2 linked regions of the Homo sapiens genome follow. The protein of the gene in region 1 interacts with the protein of each later gene in a biochemical or structural test. Each region holds a gene or a part of one and is shown on either strand. Other genes may lie near its edges. The genes, in order: HELB and POLA2.

Evidence for each region.
Region 2: the proteins of HELB (region 1) and POLA2 form a complex in vitro, tested with the Homo sapiens proteins (one study listed by BioGRID).

The regions. Positions count from the first base shown.
Region 1 is NC_000012.12:66,300,725-66,304,636, forward strand, and holds the start of HELB (DNA helicase B), read left to right. Parts: upstream 1-1,768; 5' UTR 1,769-1,879; coding exon 1,880-2,066; intron 2,067-3,912.
Region 2 is NC_000011.10:65,292,792-65,296,703, reverse strand, and holds part of POLA2 (DNA polymerase alpha subunit B), read right to left. Parts: intron 2,932-3,912; exon of another isoform or gene 2,552-2,931; coding exon 2,443-2,551; exon of another isoform or gene 2,159-2,442; coding exon 2,052-2,158; exon of another isoform or gene 1,165-2,051; coding exon 1,105-1,164; exon of another isoform or gene 1,080-1,104; intron 841-1,079; coding exon 714-840; intron 1-713. UniProt on the Homo sapiens protein: Accessory subunit of the DNA polymerase alpha complex (also known as the alpha DNA polymerase-primase complex) which plays an essential role in the initiation of DNA synthesis.

The sequences.
Region 1 (3,912 bases):
AAAAAAAAAAAAAGGGAGGAGGAGTTGAACACCTGTGCTGTGTAGTGGCTCACATCTGTAATCCTAGCACCTTGGTAGACTGAGGCAGGAGGATCACTTGACTTTAGGAGTTCAAGACCAGCTTGAGCAACACAATGAGACCTTGTCCCCCCACCCCCCAAAAAAAAAGAGAGAAAGAAAAAAAAGTTTAACATCTAGAGATCTAGAGTTGATTCTTGTGCCCAAGTCATCATGTTGGTAACAAGAATATCCCATGTATATACTCATAAGTGACCCAGATTTGGGAAGCCAATGATAAGTTGCAGTTTAGATATGCTGAGTCTTAAGTAGCCAAGGGGCATCCAGTAGTGACTGACAGTGTTTAGGCAGTTGTTTGTATGGTTTGGAGATCAGATTAGGCTGAGTCATTAGCATGTAGGTGAAGGATGATTGAGGAAAGGATTATAGAGCAAGAAGATGCTTGGGATGGAGCCTTGGGGAATAACAGTACTTACAGGCAAGCAGAGGGGTCCAAGACTGTAAATAGCCAGAAAGGAGAAAAATCTGAGAAGGCAAGCTGCAAAAGCCCCGGCAGCAGAATGCTACAAGAAGAAAATACTTATCAGTATCAAATACTGCTGAGAGGTCAGGTAAAACAAAGGCTGAAAAGTATCCACTGGTTTTTGAAACGAAGAGGACAGTAAGTGTGACATTTGTCAGAGGAGATTCAATGTTGTGGTGGAAACAGTAGCCATGTGAATGTCAAAGGAATTCAACCTCATATAGCCAATCCTTGGAAACACTGGTGTTTTGTCAGCTGCAACAGTATTTCTTTTAAAAGCAACAAAAGTGGGCATTTTTCAATTGGTACCCAAAGGAAAAGAAATCAATTTTTATATTTTCTCCTATACATTTTTCTTAAATATTTGGTGCTAGTTGTCGTTTATATATATTTAAATATAGCATCAGGTGCTTTTGGATTTAGTAAATAGTGTGTGTTTAGTTATTTCAGGAATAATCCCAAAATAAACAGTATCAATACAGTAATGTAGTAATATATTTATGGTATTTCTTAAATAGTACCAAGACTTTCAAGTACCATCCTCATCAAGTAAGAGAATCATAGCCCCATAATAGTTTTTAAAACCACGTTCCTTTCTCTTCTATTTCCCTTCTCCTATTCCTGTCTATACTCTGGGCTGCAAAGAGACACTTTTGCCCCACTGTCAGCAGGTAGCAGCCCAGCTTAAATAAGTTTGGGAGACCAGGGTGTACTCACAGAGGAAAGGATAAAAATAACTTTGAATGTTATCTAATCCAGTGGTGTCCAAACCTAGCTGAGCATCAAAATGGACAGCCCGGAATGTACATTAAAAAGACAGAATTCTAGGTCCCTGCCCTAGATCCGATTCCAGAAGGGCATCTGCTATACTTTCGTTTTGGGAAGGTTGGGGTGGGGGTTGCTTTTCCAGGTTCTTCAAGCTCAGCAGAAGTGGACTTTCTCCCCGTTCTCTCTCCGCAGGAGATGCCGTGCACTGGCGGTTCTGCAGGTGCCACGCCTGTCACTCCCCAGCGCTGATTTCGTCCCAGCACCTTCCTGATAATCACCGCCCAGCACCAGGCTCCAAAAGGAGCGGAAGCCCCGCCCATCTCCCAGCCCCTCGCTCTCCCTTCCCCGCCCCTAACCCGCCTTGCCCCGCCCCTTCCACATGCCCTCCCCTCGGCAATTCCTGGAAACTTGGGGCGGAGCTTCGCTGCCTTTCAGGTTTTATGTACGCTGGCGGCCGCCAGGCCGTTCCCGGAAGTTGATGGCCTTACAGTCGTAGAACTGATTGGCTGATCATGACCATGCAGTTAGCCAGGGTTTTCCCGAGTTGTTTGGGTTGAGTTCAGGAGAAGCATGGCCAGGTCGAGTCCGTACCTGCGCCAACTTCAGGGACCTCTGCTCCCACCCAGGGATCTGGTGGAGGAGGACGACGACTACCTAAACGACGACGTGGAGGAGGATGAAGAGTCCGTGTTCATCGACGCCGAGGAGCTCTGCAGTGGGGGCGTAAAGGCTGGCAGCCTCCCCGGGTGCCTCCGCGGTGAGGAAGGCGTCTGCCCGGGGGATGGGGTTGGAGGGTCCAAAGTAGCGCTTCCCATTCTGGCTTTGCCCTGAGCAAGGCACCCAGTCGTGCTAACAGATTTAGCTTATCAGTGGTCTAGCTGCTTCATCCTACCAAGGGTAAAATTATGACTATAATAATAGCAGTGACTTTAACTGGACACATACTATGTGGTTTTTTTTTTTTTTTCTTTTTTTGAGCAGCAGCAAGATTTATTGCAAAGAGCGAAAGAACAAAGCTTCTACAGTGTGGAAGGGGACCCGAGCGGGTTGCCCTTTTTTTTTTTTTTTTTTTTTAAAATTATTCTCATTTTAATGGTCGTCCTTTAATTTAATGTACCTTTAATGTAAGGTAGTTTTACGCTTAAGGAAACAGTGGATGTTGAGTCTCTATTTCCACCCAGAATCGGAACTTTTATTTTTCCTTCTGACCACTTATCCTCAAGTTCTATAGAATGAGAACTTGTAATTATTATCCTATATTGCCTGGAGTCAAATACGTGGTTCTTCCTCAGCTTCTTGGAAAAACAAAACAGTCCGGGCGCGGTGGCTCACGCACTTTGGGAGGCCGAGGCAGGTGGATCACTTGAGGTCAGGAGTTCGAGACCAGCCTGACCAACATGGTGAAACCTGTCTCTAGTAAAACAACAACAACAACAACAAAACTACAAAATTAGCCGGGCGTGATGTCGCACACCTGTAATCCTAGCTACTTGGGAGGCCGAGGCAGGAGAATTGCTTGAACCCAGGAGGTGGGGGTTGCAGTGAGCTGAGATCACACCATTGCACTCCGGCCTGGGCAACAAGAATGAAACTCCATCTCAAAAAACGAAAAGGAAAGAAAAGAAAAAGAAAAACGAAACACAAGGAACACCTCAGTGCACAGATGATTGTTAATTGGTGTTAGTAACCTTGTGGTTCGGGTAAACCTTGTATAAGTAGTTTCCTGTGCTATGAGGTAGTTTCCTGTGCTATAAGTTATACCTGTTATGTATACTTTGTGACTGAGACTTAAAATATTTTAATGTGCCGACCGGTGCTGTTCAGTAGAACTTTCCATGATCATGGCAGTGTTTTATATCTGCACTGTCTGGTATAATAGCCACTAGCCATATGTAGCTGTTTAGAACTTGAAATCCAGCTAGTGTAACTGAGGAGAGAAATTTTAAGTTTTATTACATTTTAATTTAAATAGCCACGTGGGTGGACAGCGCAGATTTAGGCAGAAAAGTTTCAAGTATTTGTGGAGGGCTTAGTCGTCATTCTAAAGTATCATCAACTGGCTAGCATGTTTGGTGCTGGGAAAACCTAGAGAAATAAAATAACAAGGTTGCAGTCTTAATGAAGCTTACCCTCTAGTGTATTAAACAAACATTCTTTAATCACAGAAGTAACTATAATGTTACTAAATGCTTAGAAGGAATGCTAAATAGTGCTTTGAGAGGTTTTATACATGAGATTCAGGGAAGACTTTTCTAAGTAAGTGATAGTTAAGCTGAGGTCTGTAGTAAATGTAGTAAACAGTAAAGGGGAGATCAGTTAAGGCAGATGGAATAACTTGAGTGAAGGGCCATGGCATTTTAAAGAAACTGCATGAAGGCCAGTATTGGCTGAAGTCAAGAGTAGCAGAGAGGGGACTGATTTTAGAAGAGGAACAGCAGACACCTGCTGTGTACTGTGCTTGCGTTTTGGAATACAAAGACAAACGAAACAGTGTCCTGTTTTAGTATTTACAGTGTAGTGGAGGGAGACAGAAAAAGAGGTAGGCAGAATGCAGTGTTACAGGCACCCTACCAGACATCTTTAGAGAGTGCTGTAGGGAGATT
Region 2 (3,912 bases), on another chromosome or scaffold:
AAGTGCTGGGATTACAATTGTCAACCACTGCGCCCGGCCTCAGTCACATATGTTAACTTGTCACTAGAAAGCTTTGAATTCCTTTTAAGTCTTTCAAACAGAAGAATGAGGTGACTTGGCAGAATGACAATCAGCTCCTAAACTTGGAGACAAACCTGATCTAGCTGTTTACTGCTTTCTCATGTGAAAAACTTTTTTTTAACCTCTTGAGATTGAACTAACTCTTGTTTGGCAAGAGGGGGACTGGTCTAGGCAGATTCCTTGTAAGGGACCTAACTCCAAGGCAGGCAGGGCTAAAGGGTGGCAGAGATCAAAATGACCCAATAGCTTCTTCAAGGTATTCCCAGCTGAGCCCACTTGGAGGTCATATCAGAATTTGGGAGGCAGAGGACAGGCAAGTGTACATATGAAATCTTCCCCAGGTCACCTCTATGTGGCCTGGTGAAAGCCCTCATTTGAGGGCCTTCCTAGTCATCTGGGCTCTCGTTCTCTTGGGGAGGGAGGAGAGGACACTGTTTACTCAAGCATTTTACTGACAGAGTTGTTTGTTTTCTGGTCCCACCACCTCCCCAAAGAAACAAGGCCACAGGGCAGGGTGCTAGAGGCCCCATCCCCATCAGCTGACCCATGAGGGGTGAGTGCCGGGTGGTCTAGAAGGGAAAGTCAAAGACTGGGTTCTGGTGTTTCTGGGAAAAAGCAGAGTTCAAACCTACCTTCACGAAGTACCTCAGCTCTGACGGGATGATGAGGACATCTGGGGTGACAGGCAGCTGTGCGTAAACATAGAACGACTCATAGTCAATGGCCATGTCTTCTTGGGGCGGGTAGAGTGGGTAGTAGCTACAGAGACAGAGAGAAATTGTCAGCACTAGCTGACCGGGGGGCCCCCTTCTCAGACAGAGTCCCCCTAGGTACTGGCTTTCGTGCTGCTGGCATCCACAGACCGACTTTTTCTCTGTGTGTGTGGGGCAGAATGCAGGCTTGTCATCACAGGGTAAAGTTCCCTGCTGGTAGCCTGGTGAAGGCTCTTACAGTCATGCTTGTCATAGCTCCATGACCCCAAGGCACTCTCTCCACAGTCAGGGGTCCCAGCGGCAAGCTCACCTCCTCTGGGTCAAGATGTGCTTGAGTATTCGGCTGAATCTGTCTGAAGTTCCGGAAGAACTGGGAAAGAAAAGAAAGCATGAAAACAGAACTCTGTTTTTCAGCCCATTTCTCTTCAGGGAGGACTGGAGAATTTAATAAACCAGAGAGAAGGTAAATGGCCAAGGCACAGCAACAAGAGGAGGATGCCTCTGGGGAAGTTTAAAGACCCACCCACAAGGAGCTCAGTCTGTCCCCACATGAGGAGGGACGCAGGACACCAGGTTGAGAAGGGAAAGCACAGGAATCCCTCATAATCAAGATCAAGGAAGGCCATTAGCCAGCACCGTACTGTGCAAGAGGATGCAAAGTTGGCACCATCATGAGGCGGGTGTGTAGCCAGGCTGACCTGAATCTCAAACCTCAGCCAAGGAGCCGCACCCGTCTCGCTTCACACGCGAGTCGCTTCACATGCCCCTTCCCATCAAGGATGACGGCAGAACGGAGCTGCCCAACTTCAACTCAACAAATTTGTCAGGGCCTGATTCTCTGCAGAGCTGGATGTTGTACTGGTAGTGAAGAAAATCCTTCAGAGAAAATTCCCAGTTTATCCTCCACAAACAGGATGTCCACATTTGTTTTCAGGTCACAAATTTGGGAAATGAAAAAAAAGGGGAGCAGAAAAGAAAATGTAGATGAATTTTGATGCCTTTAAGTGCAAAGACAGAATGGACGTGGTTCTTTGGGGTCTCAAACGCAGTTTAGAGAGGTGGTAACAGAAACTAATGCATCCAACCCCTCCCCTTGGGTACAGAGAAACTCAGATGGCTAGAGGGTCTGGCACAGCTTGCTGCTTTCAGCTCTCTCTGGTCAAGACCGTTAAGCAGCCCCTTGATTTTCTTGGCTGCAGAAAGGGCTGGGACCAGAAAGCCAGTCATCCTGCTTGGGGCCTGGAACACACTTCTTACCTACTGATCTCCTCGGCCCCCAGGTGGAAAAGCAGATCTGTGGATGTCAAGCCGAAGATCACTCCGTTTATGGAGAGGCTGCAGGGCTCGGACACAAACTGTACTTGCTAAAATGAGAACGGATTGAAACAAACATTTGTATGCCAAAGCTAGAAACATCTTCCCATGAAAGTGGGGGTTGTCTGAGGGCTGGGGAGACCACGGAAAGGGGGACCAAACCAACATACATCAAGCTTTTGGACACATTTGCCTGTTTAAAAAAAGGAGTTTAAGATTCAGGCTGTACGCACACCCTAAAGAGGCCTCTCCACCCTCCCCTTCAGGGCCAGAGCTAGTGGCAGAGGCATGCTGGATTCTGGCTGCCTGCTGGTCAAGGAGTGGGTGCTGCTACCTTTTTGTCCTCTCGAGACAGATCGGAGTAGCTGAAAGGCGGCTGGGGGTACACAGGCTCATGGTGCACATCTCTCAATGACGGGACAAAGACAAGGTGGGAGCCGGAGCTAGTATGGCAAAAGAACAAACAGAAGAGTGAGAAAAGTGAGTGCAGTTGAGTTAGAACAGCTGCGCAACAGGTGGGATGCCTCAGGCTGGAGGCAGAGCCCACCCCGAGGGAGGCAGCTCAGAACTGCACTCTGTTATGAACAGAGACGCTGTTTCCCATGGGACACTGGGAGTAAAGGACAGTTTGTTCTACTTCACACCCATCCATCTGGACAGGCTCCGATTGCCTGGGACACTTTCTTGTTGCTCTGTGTGGCTTTCTACTGAGAGGATGGAGACTATTTTTTGGCAGAAAAAGGGGCAAAGAAATGGAGATCTAGAAAGTCTAGAAAGACAAGGATGTGAATAAAGAATCACAGCCTCAGAGCCAGAGTTTAAACCACAGCTTGGACTCATTACACCTTCTAAGCAGGTGTAGCCTGCAGGCAGTAAACAGTGTCCCTGCCACACCTTGGTAGGGTGCATGGAGCTGGGGCATTTTTCCTAGGGAGAAGGCAGGCATACTAAAAAGACCCTGAGACTGCTTTTTTTTTTTTTTTTTTTGAGACAGAGCCTCACTCTGTCGCCCAGGCCGGAGTGCAGTGGCATGATGTGGGCTCACTGCAACCTCATCTCCTGGGTTCAAGTGATACTTGTGTCTCAGCCTCCCGAGTAGCTACAACTACAGGTGCACACCACCACACCCACCTAATTTTTGTATTTTTAGTACAGATAGGGTTTCACCATGTTGGCCAAGCTGGTCTCAAACTCCTGGCCTCAAGTGATCCACCGACCTTGGCCTCCCAAAGTGTTGGGATTACATGTGTGAGCCACCACACCTGGCCTGGCTTCGTATTTAGAAGATCCAGCTGAAACCCTCTGACTGACTGAACACTGGGCCATAATTACTGGACAACCGAGACACAGACATTTCCAGTGGGAGGCAGAAAAGCCCAAGCGGCCTCTCCCTGAGCCATCGCATCCCTCCCCTCTCACACATGGAAATAATGCCCTGAGTTTCTATTTCTCAGCAGGTTGTCATGCAAAAATGAAAGAAATATTTAACAGCAACAGTAAAAGCACAGATGACAGCAGATGTTTCCTTTGATGGAGCAGGAGAATCTCTAGGGTTACAACATACAAGTGAAGAAGAAAGTTGTAACTCTGGGGGCCAACTATTTATTTTTCCCAGCCACACAAAAGAGGAAGAAAGCCCCGTTTCCTTGGTTCCCTTAAGATGACCTTGGCAGAGGGGCCGTTTATAAATCAAATAGGCATAAGGTATTACTTTGCGGGCATGTTTAAAATCCACCAATAGCTCTCACTTCCATCTCTGTCTCTTGCTTAAAACATGTGGACTTCTCAGGCATACATACACTTT